Homo sapiens: one gene and its partners. The protein of the gene in region 1 purifies or fractionates together with the protein of each later gene. This does not show direct contact. Each region holds a gene or a part of one and is shown on either strand. Other genes may lie near its edges.

Region 1 (7,039 bases):
ATGGAATAGATATTAATTAGAATTGAACTTGCAGTTAAAGATAGTAAGTGACACGCATGCATTAGCCTCTGCTCCTTCCTGAAAACCCTCTCCAATGGCAGTAAAAAAATAAAAAAGACATCAATATACAAAGACAAAATAGGAAAAGAGAAAACACTAACAAAAATTTGAAAGCTTAGAAAGTAAGATGGATAGCTTTACAGAGCAGAGAAAGCTAAATCCTAAGCTATCCATGGAGAAAACCAAGAAATAACCTGATTTATATCTTGAAACTCCAAATAGCACAGGAATTGACAGCACCAGGTACTTCTGGAAATGAGGGTAAAGATAGGCTGTAGATATAAGAACTGGTTTAAAGCTTGTTTATGAAGTAGAGTCTCAAAACCCTTTTACCAATTCTCTCTCTTCTTTCTTTTCAGCAGCAGAGTAAGGTCTAGTCTCTAGAAAGAGTGTAAGAGATCAACTTGGGACTGATGGAAATCAGGTGAAAAACAGGTGAATTAAACAAAAGCTTCCATACTGAATGGTAAAAATCCCTGCTTTAGTCATCACCTAGCTGCGAGAATGCTGCCAGACAAGATTTTTCTTTCCAGGCAGAAGATAGGAAGCAACTTCTCAGAGAATCTGATTGGCTCAAGAAAAAAGCTTTAAAGATATTGTCGCTGGAAGTTCCTGAAGAAAAAGTCTCTGCCAGACTATCAAAAAGTGAAATCCAGTTGACAAGCTCCACTCATGTTCAGGGTTACCAATTAATTTTTTTGTTCTTGGTTTTTAAATATTAGCACATTGCCAAGGTCACCAGACATTTGAGCAAGGCCTCTAGTATGAAAGACAGAGGGCAGAGCAAACAAAAAAGCAACCTGCAACAGAGACTACTCAGGGGAAGTGTTCAAAAACCTATCATTAATGTTTTCCTAGAAATAAGAGAAAATACCATAAAAGGGACCATAAAACAAAAAGAGGTTGAAGAAACAGAAACCAGAAAAGGGTTGGCAGGAAATGCTGAGGAAGACTCAAAGAACAAAAGGACAAAGACAGAAAATAGAAAAGAAAGAGAAAAAAAAAAAAGAGGAACAGTTCAAGAGGTTTAATATCTAAATAGGAGTTTCAGAAACAGAATTAAAAAAAAATTCAAAGAAATAACCTGTTAATGTTTTCCTGAGTCGAAGGACACGAATTCCCAGATTTAAAAACCCACTGAGTACCCAGCACAATGAATGAGTCATCAAACAAGATACATCACTGTGAAATTTCAGAATACTGAGGATAGAGAGAAGGCACCAAAAGAGAAGATCCCAAAAGTTTCTAGAAAGAAAATAGAAAGATTCAAAAATCAGAATGGGACCAGGTTTTTTTAAAAAAAAACAAAAAAAACAAAAACAGGGTCTCATTCTGCTGTCCATGCTGAAGTATAGCAGTGGGATCTTGGCTCATTGTAGCCTCCACCTCCCGGGCTCAAGTGATCCTCCCACTTAGCTTCCCAAGTATCTGGGACTACAGGCACCTGCCACCATGCCCAGCTAATTTTTGTATTTTTGGTAGAGATGGGGTTTCAACATGTTGTCCAGGCTGTTCTTGAACTCCTGGGCTCAAGCAATTCTTCCATCTTAGCCTCCCAAAGTGCTGGGATTACAGGTGTGAGTCACCACACCCGGCCAGCCCTAGGCTTTTGATAAGAACACTAGAAACTAAAAGACAAAGGAATTACCCTCATGGTTCTGAGGGAAGATGTTTATCAGGTGATAATCCATAACCCAGCTAAATTATCAATCAAGTTGTAGGAGTTGAATATAGAGATATTTAAATATATGGGGTCTCAAAAATTTACCTTCCATGGATCCTTTCTTGTGGAGCCATTGGAGCATATGCTCCACCAAAACAAGGGCATCAACCAAGAATGAAAAAAAATCATGAGATCAGTAAAGAGGGGATCCAGCCACAGGAAACAGCAAAGGGAAAGCTTGAGAGAATGTAAGCCTTACATTGTAAGGAATCTCAGGATCACAGCTCACCCCTGGCCTAGAGATCAACGAATCTGTGCTGAAGCAGTCAAGAGGCCCTGGGAGAGAGATCTTCAAGAAGATTAAACACACACACACACAAAAACAAAACAAAACAAACAAAACAAAAAAACGAGATGAAATACTCAATTAAAAAATGTTAATAAACTTACACAGTTACAAGAAAGTTTCAGGGATTAATCAAGTAATGAATTTAGCATAACTAATGTAGGCACCCCATGAGGCTTTGTGCTTTCTTCTTTATGATCTAGCTCCATGAGTGCACATCATAAAGAAGAATGAAGCATAGAACCAGAAGACTTAAGTTCTACTTCTAGGTAATTAGCGATGCTATCTTTGAACAAGCCACACATTCTAGGATCTTTCATTTTCCTTATTTCTAAAACTGGTGCCTAATTCTCAGATCTGCAAATTCTTTGATCCTGTAGCTTGTTGTGTTCATAATATACTGGCTAAAGCACAGTTTTGAACAAATGTTCAACACTGCAGGTCCACGCATCATCTAATGCATGCTGACAATCCTGCAAGCAAAGACCCTGCAAAAACAAGACACCCATCCTTTAGAGAAGCTCCTATTAATAATCCAGGCATTATTATTATATTTTGATCTTTGCTTCTTTTTCCTTTATGGTCATGGTGTACCCTCTGTCACAGTAATACTGGACTTTTCTTGGGGGTATTTATGAAGCAGAGTTAGGTCCAGGCCCGGTCGACCTTTTGCTCATTACAATAGGCAACTTGGTCTCCTTGCCCCAGTCCTCCCTTCTCCTCCACCCTATGTTGCATGCTGCCACCAAATCGATCAAGATATTCCCAATTATAACTCTGCTGACCAAAGAAAGTCCTTACTTTTAGCTGGTCTTGCAGGCCCATACCCTGAGCTCACTTTACTCTCCTGCTAATCCACTGACCAAACCCATTCTTCTTTCTTTCCTTCCCCCAATGCTTGAATAGTTTCCATTTTTTACAACAATTGTACCTTCACTTGTGCTCTTCCTTGTACTTGCAACATCCTTCCCCCTGATCACTATCCATCTCCACCCCTACTCCTGCATCTGTAAGAATCAGAGGTTGAAAATTTGTGGCTTTTAAGTTATTTGGGTAATTAGTCTACAGAAATAATTAACATATCCCACCGAATATTTTAATAATTGGCAAAATTTCATATAAAACCCAGAATTTCCAACTTCTATGGAAAAAGAAACCAGGTTGATCTCACTGGAGCTGGGTGGCCACTGCTGTCACCTTAATATGAGGCTTGTATACTCCAGTTCATACCAGGCCTCACCACAGCTTTATCCCTGATGTATACCACTTCCTTATCTGTTGAGATTCTATAGGTTTTTGCATTGAAGACCTTTAAAAAGCTTACCTATTCTTAAAGATCTGATCTATTTTCACAAGCACTCTGACTCCAGCTGAAAGTAATTATTCTGAAAGGTGTGTGAATGCTTTACTTCTGAAATTATTCTGAAAGCTTTACTGTGAATGTACAGACAACAGAATTTTCTTGGAAATCTGGTGTGCCTTATAGATAGCAACCCTCACATTATTTGGGTAAATGAATCAGAGCTTCCTGCCACATAGGAAACTAACATCCTTGTGTTATGTGAATGAGCGACAACTTCCCATACAATTTGATCTTTGCAAGTGACTTGTATATAGGCCAAATATCGAGGCCAGTAAGATTTATGGAGAAAAAAACTTGCTTTGCCAAAAAAAAATCCCCCAAAGCTCTATAATACTTTATATAGGTGGGGTACATGCTGATGAAGAACATAGGTTTTTCAATCAAATTGCTTAGGTTCAAATTCTGGTTGCCACTTAAAAGCTGAGTAACCTTGGACAAATTGTTTAATCTTCCTATGTGTTGGCAACCTCCTACGTAAAAGGGAATAAAAAACTATCTATCTGTCTCATATACATTTTAATGAGCTTTTTGGAAAGTTACTGTTCCTTTTAGGAATATGGAAATTAATCACTGCCTCTCTTGAAAAGTATTTGGCTATCCCATATCCCATTTAGAAAAGATAAGGAATTCTTGGTAAGATATGTATAAATCACTGGCCAATAACGTGCTTTGTAAAATTTCCCTCGAGGATACTTTTTAGGTATGCTATATGTATTTTAGAAAAACAGAGACTAGCTAGCATTCTTAATTAGTTACAGAACATTTTGTTCTATTTTCTAACACAAGGCTAATGTTTCCAACTTGATCTCTTTTGTTGAAAGACTCCACTGAAGTAAATTCATATTTTATTTTAACTGTCTTAAGTCTTGGCAAGTAAATGACTTTTCAGTGGATACTGATCTGCATGCATATGTTTTCAATAAGTGATTCCAACCAAGATACAAAGGCTTAAAAAACAAAACCTGCTATGTTTAAGTCATTTCCCAAGTATTTTAAATCATGACTCATGATCCAGGTTCTACTGCATAAAAAGTGTAAGTAACCAATATTTCAGACAAAAGGTCATGGTTCTTCCCACTTGCCCTTAGAAAAAGAATAAGATGTTACCATTGATGTAGGCACACTGGTTTTCCCTCAAGACTCTTTCAGACTTCTTGACCATCTCATTGGATTTTTTGTCAGGCCAGGCAAATAATGTCTCCTTTAGATTTCCCTGTAGCATCTTCAGAAAGCAGTGGGAGTTGGTATGATCATGAATACTGCTATATGTACACAAAATGACAACTGAACTCAGTAGATGGTCTAGTATCCAGACCTGCAGTAACAGTCTTCCCAGAACTGACACCTGCATACTGTCAATAAGCTATCTCCCCAGCCAAAATCCATTTCAGCTGAATTTTTAAAATGTTATCAACTTACAGTTCAACAATGTTCAGGGTAAAGTAATAATATATCATCTATATCAATTCATATAAAAGGTACAATTTTGATGCATACCCCTACTAATGAACAGTTTTTTTAACTTTGTTATACTACTTTGATAACAGAAACACAAAACCAGCAACACTTTATCTTCCCCCAAATACATATAACTCACTTAAACTGGGCTAGAATTTGATTATGAAAGTACATTAGAGAAATTTTAGAAAGGATTAAGACAATCATCCATAGTAATTGTACCACACTGAGAAGATCCACTTAACATTTAATGTTTTTTCCCCAAGGCTTTTGTCTTTTCTCCTTCCTTTGGGGAGCTGTGGGAGAGAAGGTATCTATATGTGTATTACCATCCTAAAGTTACACTGTATATAAAATGTTAACATTGTGTCAATTTACAGTGCTCTACCTGTGATTACCTTCCAACATTGGTGGGAAAAAGTTAATTGGATTTGAGGAAACAAAGGATTTATTTATGCAATCTCAGAGTGAATAGTATTTAAGTATATGAAGCAGTCGTGGTTACAGGGTTAATTAAAATATATGTATCTATATACATTTTGGGTATTCATTTCATCTATTGAATTTTATTAATTTATATATGTACCATAAAAAGAATTTGTTTCCTAAATCCACAGAGTCTAGTCCCACTCTGGACATAATGTGCTTTCAAAAATATTGAGAGAATGAATGGAAACACTTCATTCCATATGAGTAAATAAATGCACTCTACAGACCTAACTTTCCAAACACTTATAAATTCATGTTTTCTTTCATAAAAATGGATCTAAATTATTGCTTTTACCATTCTCAAGACTGAGAAAGGTATGTTTCAAAAGAGAGTAATACTTAGTTGATAATAAGACTGTCAAACGTGAAACTAAAGATAAATTAAGGAGCTAAGTTTCAAAGAATCAGTATAAGTTGCCTTTTCAGTAAAGAAACTAAAGAATTAACTTGAAGTAGAAAGAAATTTTCTGAATTTGCAATGCTTTTCTAGCTTCAAATCTCCATCCTTTGGTCTTTGGTCCCACGATTGTTTACACACCTCAAACACCACAAATGTCAAGTGTAAACACAATTTCACATAAAGTTTTACTGCACAGAAAACAGAGTATGGTTAACTTAAGGGGGTTACTTACCTCATTTGATTTACTATTCATTTTGGGGGCTGGTTTTAATATGTGTAGTGTATGCCTGAATGCCCTGTGCTAATTCCATTGATAATTTTTGTTGGGATTAGGGAACATTGTGAACAAGTAAGTAGAAAATGAGGGCTGGGTGTGGTGGCTCATACCTGTAATCCCAGCACTTTGGGATGCCGAGGTGAGTGGATCACCTGAGGTCAGGAGTTCGAGACCAGCCTAACCAACATGGTGAAACCCCATCTCTACTAAAAATACAAAATTAGCCAGGCATGGTGGTGCATACCTGTAATCCCAGCTACTCAGGAGGCTAAGGCAGGAGAATTGCTTGAACCCAGGAGGCAGAAGTTGCAGTGAGCTGAGATCATGCCATTTCACTCCAGCCTGGGCAACAAGAGTGAACCACTGTCTCAAAAAAAAAAAAAAAAAAAAAAAAAAATGAGATTTGTTACTACTTGTAAGACCTGTGGCTAGCCTGGTACTATATTTTTCATATGCTAGAAAACATGCTCTAATAAATATCTGTGAATGAATAGTTATTTTACCTGCCATGTCCTTCACCCCAACAGAGAATCATCAGATTAAATTTTCCATTTCCTTGATCCACAAGATTTCGGGTATACCTAAAAAAAAACAATATATTCAGAAGTTTTAAGTTCGTTGCTGAAACAAGCACTGGAAAAAATAAGTGTGTCACCAAGTACCATTTATTCACAAATGTTAACATTTCCACCTCTAAGCAACTTTGAATGCAGTTTTCTAATTAGAAATCCAACACAAATGAAAAATCCTTTTTCACAGTTCATTTTGAACCGCTGCATTTACAGAGGTAGCTGCTCAGTTTTAATTAATGGCACGGGAAAAATAACAGGAAAAAAACCGAAATTGCATGTTTCTCAATGTGACAGCCTCAAACTGATGGAGTAAGTTTCTCAGAGAAAGTATTTCCAAAGTGCATTACTGGTTGAGGCAAGAATGTTGCTATTGTTTTTTTTTTTTTCTTTTTTCTGCCTGTAGCTAAATCA
Region 2 (7,039 bases), on another chromosome or scaffold:
TGTCTTATTTGAATCCCCAGCGCCTAGCACAGTACCAGGGGCAAATGACTTGAGAAATGAATGAATGAGCTCAAAATACAACATGAGGTTTCCACTGCTAGGTGCCAATTGAATGTGTGATACACATCAGGCATCTTAGTGGATCTTCTTAGACATCCAGACAACCAGGGTCCACCCAAGACCTACTGAATAAGAATGGCCAAGAGTGGGGCCTAGGGATCTGTATTCTTTTAAGTGCCACAGCTGACTTCTTTCATTTTATTTTTTATTATGGAAACTTTCAAGCATACAAAAGAAGTAAAGAATATGCTGGGCACAGTGGCTCATGCCTATAATCTCAACACTTTGGGAGGTCAAGGCAGGCAGATCTCTCGAGGCCACAAGTCCAAGACCAGCCTGGCCAACATGGTGAAATCCCATCTCTACTAAAAATACAAAAACTAGCTGGGCATGGTGGTGCATGCCTGTAAACCCAGCTCCTACTTGGGAGGCTGAGGCATGAGAATCGCTTGAACCTGGGAGGCAAGAGGCAGAGGTTGCAGTGAGCCGAGATCGCACCACTATATTCCAGCCTGGGTGACAGAGCAAGACTCTGTCTCAAACAACAACAAAAAGAAGAATATAATTAACTTCCATGTGCTCTTCATCCAAATTCAAATAACAACATTCTGCCATCCTCCACAACTCATTCTATGTGTACCAAAGGTTAGTCAGCAATGTTGACAGAGATAATAATACCTGAGTTTACAACAAGGAGAGAGAGCTCATCCAGCTAGGAGGTCAAGGAAGGCTACAGAGAGAGGGTAGGATTTGAGATGGGTATAGAAGAATGTGTTTATGACTTTAATGGAAGAAGAAGAAGAAGGAGGAGGAGAAGGAGAAGGAGAAGCGGGGGAGGAGGGGGGAGGAGGGGGGAGGAGGGGGAGGAGGGGGAGAAGAAGGAGAAGAAGAAGGACATTTTTGATCTAGGGAAAGGTAGAATCAAAGGTAAGTCAGGTCAGTTGTTACAGAGACCATTTCCTTTAAAATCTTTATACCAATTATTTCTCGAAATCTACTCTCCATCTTGAGCTGCCTACAACACACCTCCTTCTTTGCTGTCAACTAATATTTCAATCCCAATTTCCCTGTATCTCCGCTTTCTCCCCAAACTGGCTGGTCTTCTCGACCTTTCAATGTCTATTAGTGGTACTAATATTCTCCTACTTTTTAAGCTCAGATACTTGGGACCCAAAGTACTTTTCACTTCTACTCTCCAACTTTCAATTCTGTAGCCTGCCAATGGTTCTCTACAGTGCTTCTGAATTTAATCCTTTCTCTTTGCCAGGGACTCTTCCCCTCATATCTGAACTACTACAGCAGTGCTGGCTGGTCTCTGTGCCTCCAGCTACCCTGTACTCACTGATTAGTTCTCCAAGGATCCCACTGTCAGCAGACCACAGTAACTTCCTACAATGACTTCCTATTGACAACTGAATCAAAATAAACTCTTCACTGTAATGTTTAAAGCCTTCAATGCCCTCAATGACCTGTCCTATATTTCCACTATTCCTTAAAATAGCCCCTTCTCAACCCCTGCCAGCCACAGAACTTCTTTTTTTTTTAAAAAAAAAAAAACTACCTCTCACCCAGGTGCAGTGGCTCACACCTATAATCCTAGCACTTTGGGAGGCCAAGGTGAGCGGATCACTTGAGGTCAGGAGTTCGAGACCAGCTTGGCCAACATGGCGAAACCCCGTCTCTACTAAAAATACAAAAATTAGCCAGGTGTAGTGGCACACACCTGTAATCCCAGTTACTCGGGAGGCTGAGGCAGAAGAATCACTTGAACCCGGTGGGCGGAGTGAGCTGAGAAGATCATGTGACTGCACTCCAGCTGGGCAATGGAGCGAGAAAACCCTACCTCTCATGTATCCACTTGCTTTGGACCCCTCTCCACTAACCTTGTTACTGAGCTCACAACTCCCTTTATTTCATTCATTTGTCCAGTTTTTTTTTTTTTTGAGACAGTCTCACTCTGTTGCCCGGGCTGGAGTGCAGTGGCGCGATCTCTGCTCACTGCAAACTCCGCCTTCCCAGGTTCATACCATTCTCCTGCCTCAGCCTCCAGAGTAGCTGGGACTACAGGCGCCTGCCACCACGCCCGGCTAATTTTTTTTTTTTTTGTATTTTTAGTAGAGACGGGGTTTCACCGTGTTAGCCAGGATGGTCTTGATCTCCTGACCTCATGATCCGCCCGCCTCGGCCTCCCAAAGTGCTGGGATTACAAGCATGAGCCACCACGCCCAGCCATTTGTCCAGTTTTAAGTAAATTTTTACTTTAGTAAATTTATTTAAATTTACTTATTACGTGCCAGGTTCTAAGCCAGATACACAGAACACAAAAAGACCCACAGTTCTTGTCTGGTCCTTCATGAAAATTTCCTGAGTAAAACAGCCACCAAGTGACCCTTTTAAAAAACACATCATTTCTCTAAAGCTTTGAACTACACACATTTGTTTTTTTGAGACAAGGTCTCGCTGTGTCACCCAGGCTGGAGTGCAATGGCATGATCACAGCTCACTGCAGCCTCAACCTGCTGGGAGCAAACAATCCTCCTACGTCAGCCCTCCAAGTAGCTGGGACCACAGGCGCACGCCACCATGCCTGGCTAATTTTTGCATTTTTTGTAGAGGTGGGGTTCTACCATGTTGCCCAGGTTGGTCTCAAACTCCTGGGCTCAAGCAATCTGCGCACCTTGGCCTCCCAAAGTGCTGGGATTACAGGCATGAGCCACTGCACCCAGCCTGAACTACACACATTCTTATCTGCTTAGATGTTGACTTAGAATTGTTCTCTAGTTGGCCGGGTCTGGTAATCCCAGCACTTTGGGAGGCCGAGGCGGGTAGATTACGAGGTCAAGAGATCGAGACCATCCTGGCCAACATGGTGAAACCCCGTCTCTACTAAAAATACAAAAAACTAGCCAGGTGTGGTGGTGGGCACCTGTAGTCCCAGATACTCGGGAGGCTGAGACAGAAGAATCACTTGAACCCGGGAGGCGGAGGTTGCAGTGAGCCAAGATTGCGCCACTGCACTCCAACCGGTGACAGAGCGAGATTCTGTCTCAAAAAAAAAAAAAAAAAAAAAAAAGAATTGCTCTCTCTAGTTGTTCTGTGTCTTATCTTACAGCTTAAAATTATCTTGAAAGTAGAACCAATATCTTCTATTTCTTTGCTGTAGCCCACAAAACCTAGTACAGTAATACGCAACTTGTAGGTATTAAAGAAACATTTGTTGAATTGATAAATCAGATACTAAGTTAATGAAATGATTATTAAATGGGTCACAGAGCTTATTAAAAATTTGATTAAAAGTTATGGCCCCTCTCCCAGGAAAAGTAAACCTATGAACCTGTAGCCAAATTCTGCATAGTTTGGGGAAGGAAAAAAAAAATCACTGAAATCCTGAAACCTATCACGGTCCCCTCACAATGACTTAGTTCAAAAGACCCTAAAACCAATAATTTGGGATGCTGGGCTTTTTGTTTTCCTTTATAATATTCAACCAATAACATATGTTATATTTTAACTTTAAAAACTTTCAGCCAGGCTGGGCATGGTGGCTCACACCTGTAATTCCAGTGTTTTGGGAGGCCAAGGCAGGAAGATCACTCGACGCCAGGAATTTAAGACTAACCTGGGCAACAGACCCGTCTCTACAAAAAATAAAAATTGGCACATGCCTAATGAGCTAATTAGCTACCTGGGAGGCTGAAACAGAAGGATTACCTGAGGTCAGGAGTTTGAGGTTACTATAATTGTGCCACTGCACCCAGCCTGAGTGACAGAACAAGACCCTGTCTCTAAAAAACAAAAAAGCTCTCAGCCAATAAACAAATATCAAAATTTGAGATATATATACACATATATACACGTATATATGTATATATGTGTGTATATATATAGTATACATATATACACACATATATGTATATGTCTATGTATATACGTATACATGTATATATGTATACGGATATATATACATATATGTGTATATATATATACGCGTATATATGTATATATATCCTTTGAGCACAGTATTTTCATTCAAAAATACTAGCACAAATGCAAAAATATGCATACAAAGTAACCCTACTGGCCAGGCGCAGGAGCTCACACCTGTAATCCCAACACTTTGGGAGGCCGAGATGGTGGATAACTTGAGGTCAGGAGTTCAAGACCAGTGTGACCAACATGGTAAAACCCCGTCTCTACTACAAATACAAAAATTAGCTGGGCATGGTGGCGCATGCCTGTAATCCCAGCTACTCGAGAGGCTGGGGCAGGAGAATCACCTGAACCCGGGAGGCAGAGGTTGCAGTGAGCTGAGATTGTGCCACTGCAGTCCAGCCTGGGCAACAGAGCGAAACTCTGTCAAAAACAAAAAAACAAAACAAAAAAAAAACACACAAAGTAACCCTACTAAACTATGTACTTAAAAATGGTGTAGATGGTAAATAGCATGTGTATTTTACAATTTTTTTTTTTTTTTTTTGAGATGGAGTCTCACTCTATTGCCCAGGCTGGAGTGCGTGGCGTGATCTTGGCTTACTGCAATCTCCACCCCCCCAGATTCAAGCGATTCTTATGCCTCAGCCTCCTGAGTAGATGGGATTACAGGTGCCTGCCACCATGCCCGGCTAATTTTTGTATTTTTAGTAGAGACAGGGTTTCACCATGTTGGCCAGGCTGGCCTTGAACTCCTGACCTCAAGTGATCCACCTGCCTCGGCCTCCCAAAGTGCTGGGATTACAGGCATGAGCCACCGTGCCCAGCCTGTAATTTACAAATTTTTAAAAAGCTACACATATAAGGATGTAAAGCACTCCCTGTAATGATAAAAAAAAAAAAAATGGAAATTACCTAAATGATGAGTAGGAATCTGGTTATATAAATTGTGGACTACTCTGAAGCCAATAAAAACAAGAAAGGGAATTTAGATGTGCTGTCATGAGAAGACAACCTAATACAAAGCGGGAAAAACAATTTGCAGAATATGCAAAAAAGTAAAAAGCGTATGTAAAAATATTCTGATTTTGTTTATAAAAAATGTTTCCATATGAAAGCGTGAGTGTGGATTTACCTATGTAGAGATAAACATTTGGAAAGACACGTACCAAATGTTAGCAGTGGACACCTGTGGGGACAAGGATCATAAGGGAAGATTTTCATTTTCTACTTTTATATTGACTATTTTTTTAAAACAAGAAATAGGTATTACTCTCATAAATTAACCAACATCATCTCACTTCTCCCCAAACATTGAGCCAGAAGATACCTAATTTTATGTCTCCCTTTTAAATTCTGGCCTTTTTCTGAGGGAGTAATATAAGGCCATCCTCCTGCTGGGAACCCATTTCCCTGAGAGTCAGATGTTTCTGGAAGCTAATGCTGGACACAACAAAGGTTGCTACTAATATAGCAAGCTCCCCATGCCCTGTACCAGTGAACAAAAATCAAGACCATTCCCACAAACCTTCCTAAAACAGTCCTTTCTGTTTTGTTCTCTCCCCTGCTTGGGTATATCATACAGAGTGATAGCAGCTCCTCCAGGAAAGAAAGTATCCAACCTTATCTTCAGAGGACCTTGAAAACACACAGAGTGCACTCCAGGCTAGCTACAAGTCTTGGCCAAGTTTTTCCTGCAAATGACTCAAGAAGTTGCTTTTAAATACCTCAGAAAGAGGCCGGGCACGGTGGCTCACGCCTGTAATCCCATCACTTTGGGAGGCCGAGGCAGGTGGATCATTTGAGGTCAGGAGTTTGAGACCAGCCTGGCCAACATGGTGAAACCCCATCTCTACTAAAAATACAAAAAATTGGCTGGGCGTGGTGGTCGGTGCCTGTAATCCAAGCTACTCGGGAGGCTGGGGCAGGAGAATCAGTTGAACCCGGGAAGTGGAGGTTGCAGTGAGCCAAGATTGCACCACTGGCACTCCACCCTGGGCGACAAAGTGAGATTCCGTCTCAAAAAAAAGAAAGAAAGAGAACATTTAGATGAGATGGGAAACAGTTACTGCCTTCCTAGTGGAGAGAGGAGAAAGGAAGAAGGGCTTTTCTTACCTGTCCAGAGAGCGGCCAGAGAACTCCTGGCTCTGGGCCACTGGGGAAAGGTAAAGATCCATGTTTTCTTCCCCAAGTGTGCATGGAGATGATGCTGGCAGATAAACAGCTGTCCAGAGGTGCAGGGCCCGGACATGACAAACAGGATGCAGGACCTAGGGAAGCAGCCCAATACTAGTGCTTTGTCAAGAGTTCCTTGTCCTTTTTCTTTCCCTAAGCCCTTGACTCTACATTTTCCCTACTGACTCAGCTGCTTCTCCCTATAGGTTTCTAAATAGCACCTACAGGAAAAGGGCTCAGACTCACCATGTCTGAGCTGGGTGTGTAGAGGAAGTTATGAAAGTTTTTATTGCCAGCTCGAAGGAGCGCCCACACAGAGCAGGTCCGCTTGTAGATGTTGCGCTTCTCTCGCTCACAGGGGTTGTTGGCCAGGAAGGTGCCGTAGAGGCAGGAGTATGTGTGTTGCACCAGTTTTACCTAGAAAGCAGAGAGAGCTTGCACCTGGGGGCCTCGGGCTGTCATTCCCCCCATCCCTGTTGTCACAGGCCTTAGGACTTACCAGGAATGCTTCATTAAATTCAAACAGGCAGGGGAACTGCTTAAGCAACTGATGAACAGAATCAAGCCACTGGAGGAACACAGGGCATTGTTCGTTTTGGTCCTCCACATTCTCTTGGTGGCCACAGCGATCTCCAAACTTGTGCCCAAAATCCAGCCAGTCAGACTCCACTAACACTTGGAAGCCCTGCAAAAAAAGAAACTGTTCAAACATAGGGCCTCTCTGGAAATGCTGATGTGCTACTCCCCTGGGAACTGCCCAAAGCAGGAAGCTGGCAGCTTCAAAGAAAAATAGGACTGGACCTAGAAGAGGACTCAAAGCCACCAATTTTCCAAGCCTTTGGGAGTTGGAAAAAAAAAGAAAAAAAGAGCCACC
Region 3 (7,039 bases), on another chromosome or scaffold:
GATCTCAGCTCACTGTAGCCTCAACGTCCTTGGCTCGAGTGACCCTCCTGCCTCAGCCTCCCGAGTAGCTGGAACTATAGGCGTGTGCCACCATGCCCAGGTAACTTTTGTATTTTTTGTAGAGATGGGGTTTCACCATGTTGCCCAGGCTGGTCTTGAACTCCTGAGCTCAAGCAATCTGCCTGCCTTGGCCTCCTAAAGTGTTGGGATTACAGTCGTGAGACACTGCGCCCAGCCAACTTGAAAGTTTTAGTAAGCATTTGATTCAATAACTGTAATTTTAATAGTCTTTATCTAAAAACCCCTAAGGTTAGTCTAAACTGTTACATATAAAAATATTTGAGTATAATCCAAATTTTGTCCAAGAAAATACAAGGTATGTGTCAATGGATTAGGTCATTTGTTCCCCCTCTACAATACTGTGTAGTATTTTTTCGAATGTTCTGAAACTTATGTTTTATTTTAAAACAAAATAGCCAGGCATGCTGGCTCATCCCTGTAAGACCAGCCTGGGCAGCACTGCGAGACACATCTCTACTAAGAATAAAAAAAAATTAGCCAGGTGTGGTGGTGCACACCTGTGGTTCCAGCTTCTCGGGAGGCTGAGGCAGAGGATCACTTGAACCCAGGAGTTCAAGGTTGCAGTGAGCTGTGATTGTGCCACTGCACTCCAGCAGCCTGGGCAACAAAGTGAACCCTTTCTAAAAAAAAAAAGAAGAAAGAAAGAAAAAGGGAGATAAAGAAGAATAGTTTCTGCCTCATGAGGCTCAGCGCCCAGTAAGTGAGTAAGTGAAGAGAAAACTGAGTAAGCACTCAATGCACTGAGATAAGTTAACAGTGGGAAACAAAAGTATTTAATTCAAATAGTGACAGCCACAGAAGGAGTCTGTACCTGACCACAGTTTGGGATTTGCAGGTGTTTGATCGAGAAGAACGGGCACTTCAGGTGGAATTGTGTATTCCAGCAATTATGGGTACCTTAATATGAGGGAGTGAGGTAAGAATGGAGAGGCAGGCAGCAGAGACTTATAACACATTTGTATGCCACACTAAGGAGTATGGCATACAAATTATCCTGAAGGTAATGAAAGGGAACCACTGAAAAGAATCAGAGAATATTACAGTAATTTGATTTACGGAAGACCAGTCTTGGTGCAGTGTAGAGAAAGGACTGGACATGTTGGCATTACAGACATCAGTATGTCCTTCTGAGTAAAACAGACCAGAACCTGAAAGAGCTTCTCCACCTGTTAGCTGTAAGTCCTTAACAAGTTTCTCAACCTCTCTGAGCCCCAATTTCCTTAAATGGAAAGTGGAGACAGTAATATTTACATGTCAGGGTTACTCTGAGAATTAAGAGATAATGGGCCCTGCCCCGCGTCTGCCTCAGAGGGGCCCGAGCCACCCGGGGCGTGCGCCGCGTCCCCGCCGGGGCCGACAGAGCCGAGCCGGGCCGCCATGGACCACAAGACTCTGCTGCAGGAGCGGCCGCCCGCCTACAACCTGGAGGCCGGCCAGGGCGACTACGCGTGAGGCCCGCACGGCTACGGCGCCATCCCCGCCGCGCCCCCGCAGCCGCCCTACTCCTACCTCGTCACACGGACACCCACCCACCATCCCAGGGTCTACAACATCCACAGCTGGACCGTCATCCGCTATCCTACCAACTCTATCGTGGTCGTGGGAGGCTGTCCCGTCTGCAGGGTCGGGGGGCTGCAGGACTGCTTCACCTTCCTGGGCATCTTCCTGGCCATCATCCTGTTCCCCTTTGGGTTCATTTGCTGTTTTGCCTTGAGGGAGCGAAGATGCCCCAACTGTGGAGCCACCTTCGCTTAAAGGGAACACCAGGCTCGGCCTTTCCTACACCCAGCTCTCTTTTTCTAATGTAAATGTTGTGTTCAATAGTTTTATTTGATTAAGCTTCAGGACTGTTTTGTAAAGCGAGGTGGGACCGATGTGGCACACGCCAGCTGCGGTTTCCCGGAGCGTGGAGAGGCAGCGCTGCTGCTCCTGCCCCAGGCTCATGACAACTCAATGAAGCACTGCTTTTATTTTTTGCAGTCTTCAATTTGAGAAAGGTGAGAAATAATCTTTTCAATAAATGAGATTCATACCAAAAAAAAAAAAAAAAAAGAGAGAGATAATGTATACAGCATGCTTACTATGGAGGCTGGCACATGGTAGCTGCTGCACAGTCACTAATGTGAGCTAGACTGTATGCTGCTCAAGGTTAGCTGATGGTCTTACTCCATTTTATACTGGTCCCAAGGCTTAGCACTAGAAATGATTCCCAGGATCCTCAATATAAGTTGGTTGAGTAAATGAAAATAAATATTAAATATATGTCAGTGATATTGCAAAATTAATATCAAGTCTCATTTTAGTTCAAACCAAGACTTGGTTGGAGTGATCCTTTTAGGATCAGAGGCTTTACTTAACTGGCAGAATTGTCTCTACCTAGCTCAAAGATAAGCAGCTAAAAATATAGTACAGAAATCTCAATTTTATAATTTCCTATTGAACAAAGAAATGGCACATTTTCTAACTATCTGATGTTGCGAAAAGTAATATTTTTATTCAAGGCCACAGTCAACATATTGCATGTTGGCAAAGCAAAATTTAAATGTCCTACTTGGGGCCAGGTATGGTGGCTCACGCCTGGAATTCCAGCACTTTGGGAGGCTGGGGCGGGGGTGGATCACCTGAGGTCAGGAGTTCAAGACCAGCCTGACCAACATGGCGAAACCACGTGTCTACTAAAAATACAAAATTAGCCAGGCGTGGTGGCAGGTGCCTGTATTCCCAGCTACTCAGGAGGCTAAGGCAAGAGAATTGTTTAAACCCGGAAGGTGGAGGTTGCAGTGAGCCGAGATTGTGCCATTGCACTCCAGCCTGGGTGACAAGAGCAAAACTCTGTCTCAAAAAGACAAACAAACAAATAAATGTCCTACTCAAGCCTTGTTTGAAATGAATGAATCTCACCTTTAAGAAGAAAGGCATAAAGGAGAGTTTAATTCCACGAGCAAATGCAATGGGTTTTAATTCTTCTCGGAGCTTAACCAGTTCAGTAAGGTCAATCTCATCACAATAACCAAAATGAGGTATCTTCAGGGCTGCAGACATAGTCTTGACCATTGCTTTTTGAAAGCCTGAAAAGCATTAAATTGTTATTCATTTATTTAAATTCTCAAATCTCTTCATCCTTTTTTTTTTTTTTAAAGAAACTAAAATGGAAGGTTCTCTAATGTCTTTTACTCTCTCAGTTAAACCCTTCCTCTTACTACTCTCTTCATTACATTACACTGAAAGTCACTAATTTCAAAGCTGGAACACTGACTGCATCATGACACTCAGTGGCAAATGCAATAACATAGCAGGTAACTGCTTTAAATGCTGTGTTATATAAAAAATTCAAAAGAATGCAAGCCATGTATTTCCCTAACAGCTTTCCTGCAAAGCCACTCTTCTGGAAGTTAATCATTCCAGGAGTTTATAAATAACAAATCAGAACTAGTTATTTTGAAAGCTAACTACAAATAGTGAATGTTTAAAATGTCCTGTGTGTCTTCAAACAGAGCAATTATCAATATACAAGTTTATATTTCAAGAAACCTGCTAACGTATTACTCTTCAGAAGATAATGATACACATAAATTGTAAGTGTTTCCTGGAAAAGCTATGCTATTTCACCATTTAAAAATTATGGCCAGGCGCAGTGGCTCACGCCTGTAATCCCTGCACTGTGGGAGGCTGAGGAGGGTGGATCACCTGAGGTCAGGAGTTCGAGACCAGCCTGGCCAACATGATGAAACCCTGTCTCTACTAAAAATACAAAAAATTAGCTGAGCATGGTGGCGTGCACCTGTAATCCCAGATACTCAGGAGGCTGAGGCAGGAGAATTGCTTGAACCTGGGAGGCGGAGGCTGCAGTGAGCCAAGATCGTGCCACTGCACTACAGTCTGGACAACAAGAACAAAACTCCATCTCAAAAAAAAAGAAAAGAAAAGAAAAATTATATGCTGACTGAAGTTGAACTTTCCCTTCAGTAAGACTTGAAAACACCATATTATATACATTTATCTACTGAGGTAGCTTCCCCCAAAATAAATGAACTATTGCCTTATAGTATTGTTATTATTATCATTACCTTTTATGGGTTCTGTTTTGTCTTTGCCTGTGAATACCGGAGGTTTTGATACTAGTATAGGAACAGTCATGTCTTTTGGCTTTGGTGGAGGTGGCATAATTTCAACTTTGGGTGAAGGAGGCAATATAGCTCCTGTCTGCTTTTCCAAATAGTTGAGGATATCTTCTTTAAGTATTCTGCCATCTTTTCCTGAGCCAACAACTTCACTCAGCTTAATCTAAAAAATGATATATTTTAATGCCAAAAATACAACTATTTAAAAACATCATTAAAGTTTCAAAATGGAATTTGATCAACTGACAGTAAAATATATCTGTCCAATAAATTAGTAAAAGGAAATAACCTTTTCATTTTCTACTTAAGTAATCATTACTTTTGTATATACTGTTCACATATGCATGTGGTAACCATCAGGTATCTATATTATATATAATCTAGAGCTATTTATGAAAACTTACTTTTTAAAAAAATTTTTTGTAGAGACAGGGTCTCACTCTGTTGCCCTGGCTGGTCTTGAACTCCTAGCCTCAAGCTATCCTCTCACCTCAGCCTCCCAAAAGTGCTGGAATTACAGGCGTGAGCCACTATGCCCAGCTGAAAACTTACATTTTTATACTCAAGTATTTTAAAATCTCTTGCATAATTCTTACTCGACCTTTTCTATTCTTGGGGACTACATAAGAAGAGGGAGAGCTGAGAATTTAAGAGAAACTAAATGCTATACCAAATTTAGACCAATGTTTCTGACACTGGCTACCAGTTAAAAACGTAACAACTTAAATAATCATAATACAAAAGCTCTCTCAAATTAGTTATTTTTCTGGTAGTTGCTTTGGAAAGATCAGTACAAAACATTTAATTCTATTTAAATAAAAATAAACATAAAAGCTTGGAATGATCTCCTCATATATAGTATGTATTAATTTCTTAGGGATAGGCCCCATTTCATTTGTATTAGTGCATCTCTAAGGATGACTAAAATAATAAAGGACTTTACTAAGGCAAACACTAAGTTTGTAACAAATGGACTATGAAAATTTAAACAAATAATTTTTAGGCAGTTACAAACAACTGTAAATGCCACTGGTTCTTAATTTTAAACAAACTCAATTCATAAATATGCAAATTCAAAGAAAAAAGATGATTTCTGATAACTAAATCCAATATTTAATTTTTAGTAATCATACAAGCACTCTACCCAAGTATTCTATACCCATCTTTAGGGAGTGTTTTAGGAAAGCCAAATCATACATTTCTTCTATATATTTCTTTCTATATTATTAAGAAAAAAATTATTAAAATGCTTTATAGATTTCAAAGCAAAATGTTAAATCATTATTTCATCTGATGCCCTTAATAACCTAATGTTCCACGTTACTATATCTATTTTCTGTTATGCTAAATGGTCTTCATACTTAAACACATTTAAGGGTTACATAACATTTTATCAAGGATACATAACATAATTTGAATGTGTATGCATCTTCTAATTTTTGGCTATATAAAATACAAGGAAGAATGATTCCTAGATTATTTTCTTGGGATAGTTCCCCAGTGGCAGGATAACTGGCTGAAAGAATATGAACATTTTAATGACTCTATTACATATTTCACAAAATATAAACTTTTATTTTTTTCCCACAGCAACCTTACTTTTCTCAAAAAGAGACAAACAAAAAGTCTCATTGTGGGGCACAGTGGAAAGTATTCAGGTTTCAGAACCAGACAGATTTGTGTTCAAATCCCTAGTTCAGCTTACTTGGTTTTAGATAAGTTAATCAACCTGCCTGCAGGGTCCTTGTGAGGATTACAGATGTGTCTATAGTGTCTGGCACATATGTGCTCAAATAATGGAGGCAATGATTGTTGAGGTTTATATAACATCTAACAGCACAGGTTTTGGAGTGATATAGACTCACTTTTGAATTCTGGCTCTTGCTATGTTAGCTGTGTGACTTTAGACTAGTTACTTAAACCCTCCAAGTCTTAAAATAGCTCCTTATCTTACAGGGTTAAATGAGAATACGTAAATACCTATCCCAGTGCCAGGGAGCCACCCTGCCTGGCATTCCACCTTCCATTCAGTCAATGACTGGCAGAGGAAATACAAAAGGCCGGCCTCCTTGCCTCAAAGCAGTAATTCTGTGGTTCTCCCTTGCACCCTCAGATCAGGCCAGAGTCTTTCTTTTTTTACTTAGGACCATGGCAAGCTTTGGGACAGGCCAGATGCTTGATACCATAACCATGTCTGGCCAATTTCCCTTCTCTTCTCTTTTTTATCTTGCTTCCTTCAGTCCCTTTACAGGTTTTCCCTCCTTCAAATTCCTATCTCATGCTGTGCCTCTAGAGCACCTGACATAAGACCTGGTATTTACAAGTGCTCAGTAAATGGTAGCTCTTACTGTTATTAGGCTCTAAGAAAGAATAATAAAATCATACTGCTCAATTGATAGTAAGTAATAAGTTTACAACTTCTCATTTCTCCCATGTATTTTTATGCAACTATTGCTTTTCAGTAGCAAATATCTTCATGTTTCCTTAATTTCATTGAGCTATTTCATCATGGGATAGTTGGCTAATTTTTCAGAGATACAAATGTACACTTCCTATACAATCTCAGACTTAAATATTAAGAGAACTTACATTGTTTTCCATTGCCAGACGGCGAACTGCAGGAGTTGCCAGTGTTTTTCGGCCCTTTATCTCTTGGTGTGTATGTTCATCATGAGACACTGCAGGAGTTTCAACAACATCTTCTTCTGAATCTGGTAACAAGGTAAAACTTAACTTCAGTTGAAAAAAAATTTTTTTTTTTTACTAAGATGTAAAGTAAGGCCACTAAGATGTGGCCTATAATATCTAAATAAATTAAAGTTTATAGTCTAAATGTA

The links.
Region 2: the proteins of CDO1 (region 1) and MTMR4 purify together in Homo sapiens (affinity purification with mass spectrometry; 2 studies listed by BioGRID and IntAct, with this or other methods). This does not show direct contact.
Region 3: the proteins of CDO1 (region 1) and DBT purify together in Homo sapiens (affinity purification with mass spectrometry; 2 studies listed by BioGRID and IntAct, with this or other methods). This does not show direct contact.

What each region holds. Positions count from the first base shown.
Region 1 is NC_000005.10:115,806,622-115,813,660, forward strand, and holds part of CDO1 (cysteine dioxygenase type 1), read right to left. Parts: intron 6,638-7,039; coding exon 6,560-6,637; intron 4,695-6,559; coding exon 4,540-4,694; intron 3,077-4,539; exon of another isoform or gene 3,001-3,076; intron 2,073-3,000; exon of another isoform or gene 1,829-2,072; intron 1-1,828. UniProt on the Homo sapiens protein: Catalyzes the oxidation of cysteine to cysteine sulfinic acid with addition of molecular dioxygen.
Region 2 is NC_000017.11:58,497,639-58,504,677, forward strand, and holds part of MTMR4 (phosphatidylinositol-3,5-bisphosphate 3-phosphatase MTMR4), read right to left. Parts: intron 6,851-7,039; coding exon 6,665-6,850; intron 6,583-6,664; coding exon 6,412-6,582; intron 6,261-6,411; coding exon 6,106-6,260; intron 1-6,105. UniProt on the Homo sapiens protein: Lipid phosphatase that specifically dephosphorylates the D-3 position of phosphatidylinositol 3-phosphate and phosphatidylinositol 3,5-bisphosphate, generating phosphatidylinositol and phosphatidylinositol 5-phosphate.
Region 3 is NC_000001.11:100,211,835-100,218,873, forward strand, and holds part of DBT (lipoamide acyltransferase component of branched-chain alpha-keto acid dehydrogenase complex, mitochondrial isoform 1 precursor), read right to left. Parts: intron 6,914-7,039; coding exon 6,792-6,913; intron 4,366-6,791; coding exon 4,149-4,365; intron 3,150-4,148; coding exon 2,983-3,149; intron 2,117-2,982; exon of another isoform or gene 1,389-2,116; intron 1-1,388. UniProt on the Homo sapiens protein: The branched-chain alpha-keto dehydrogenase complex catalyzes the overall conversion of alpha-keto acids to acyl-CoA and CO(2).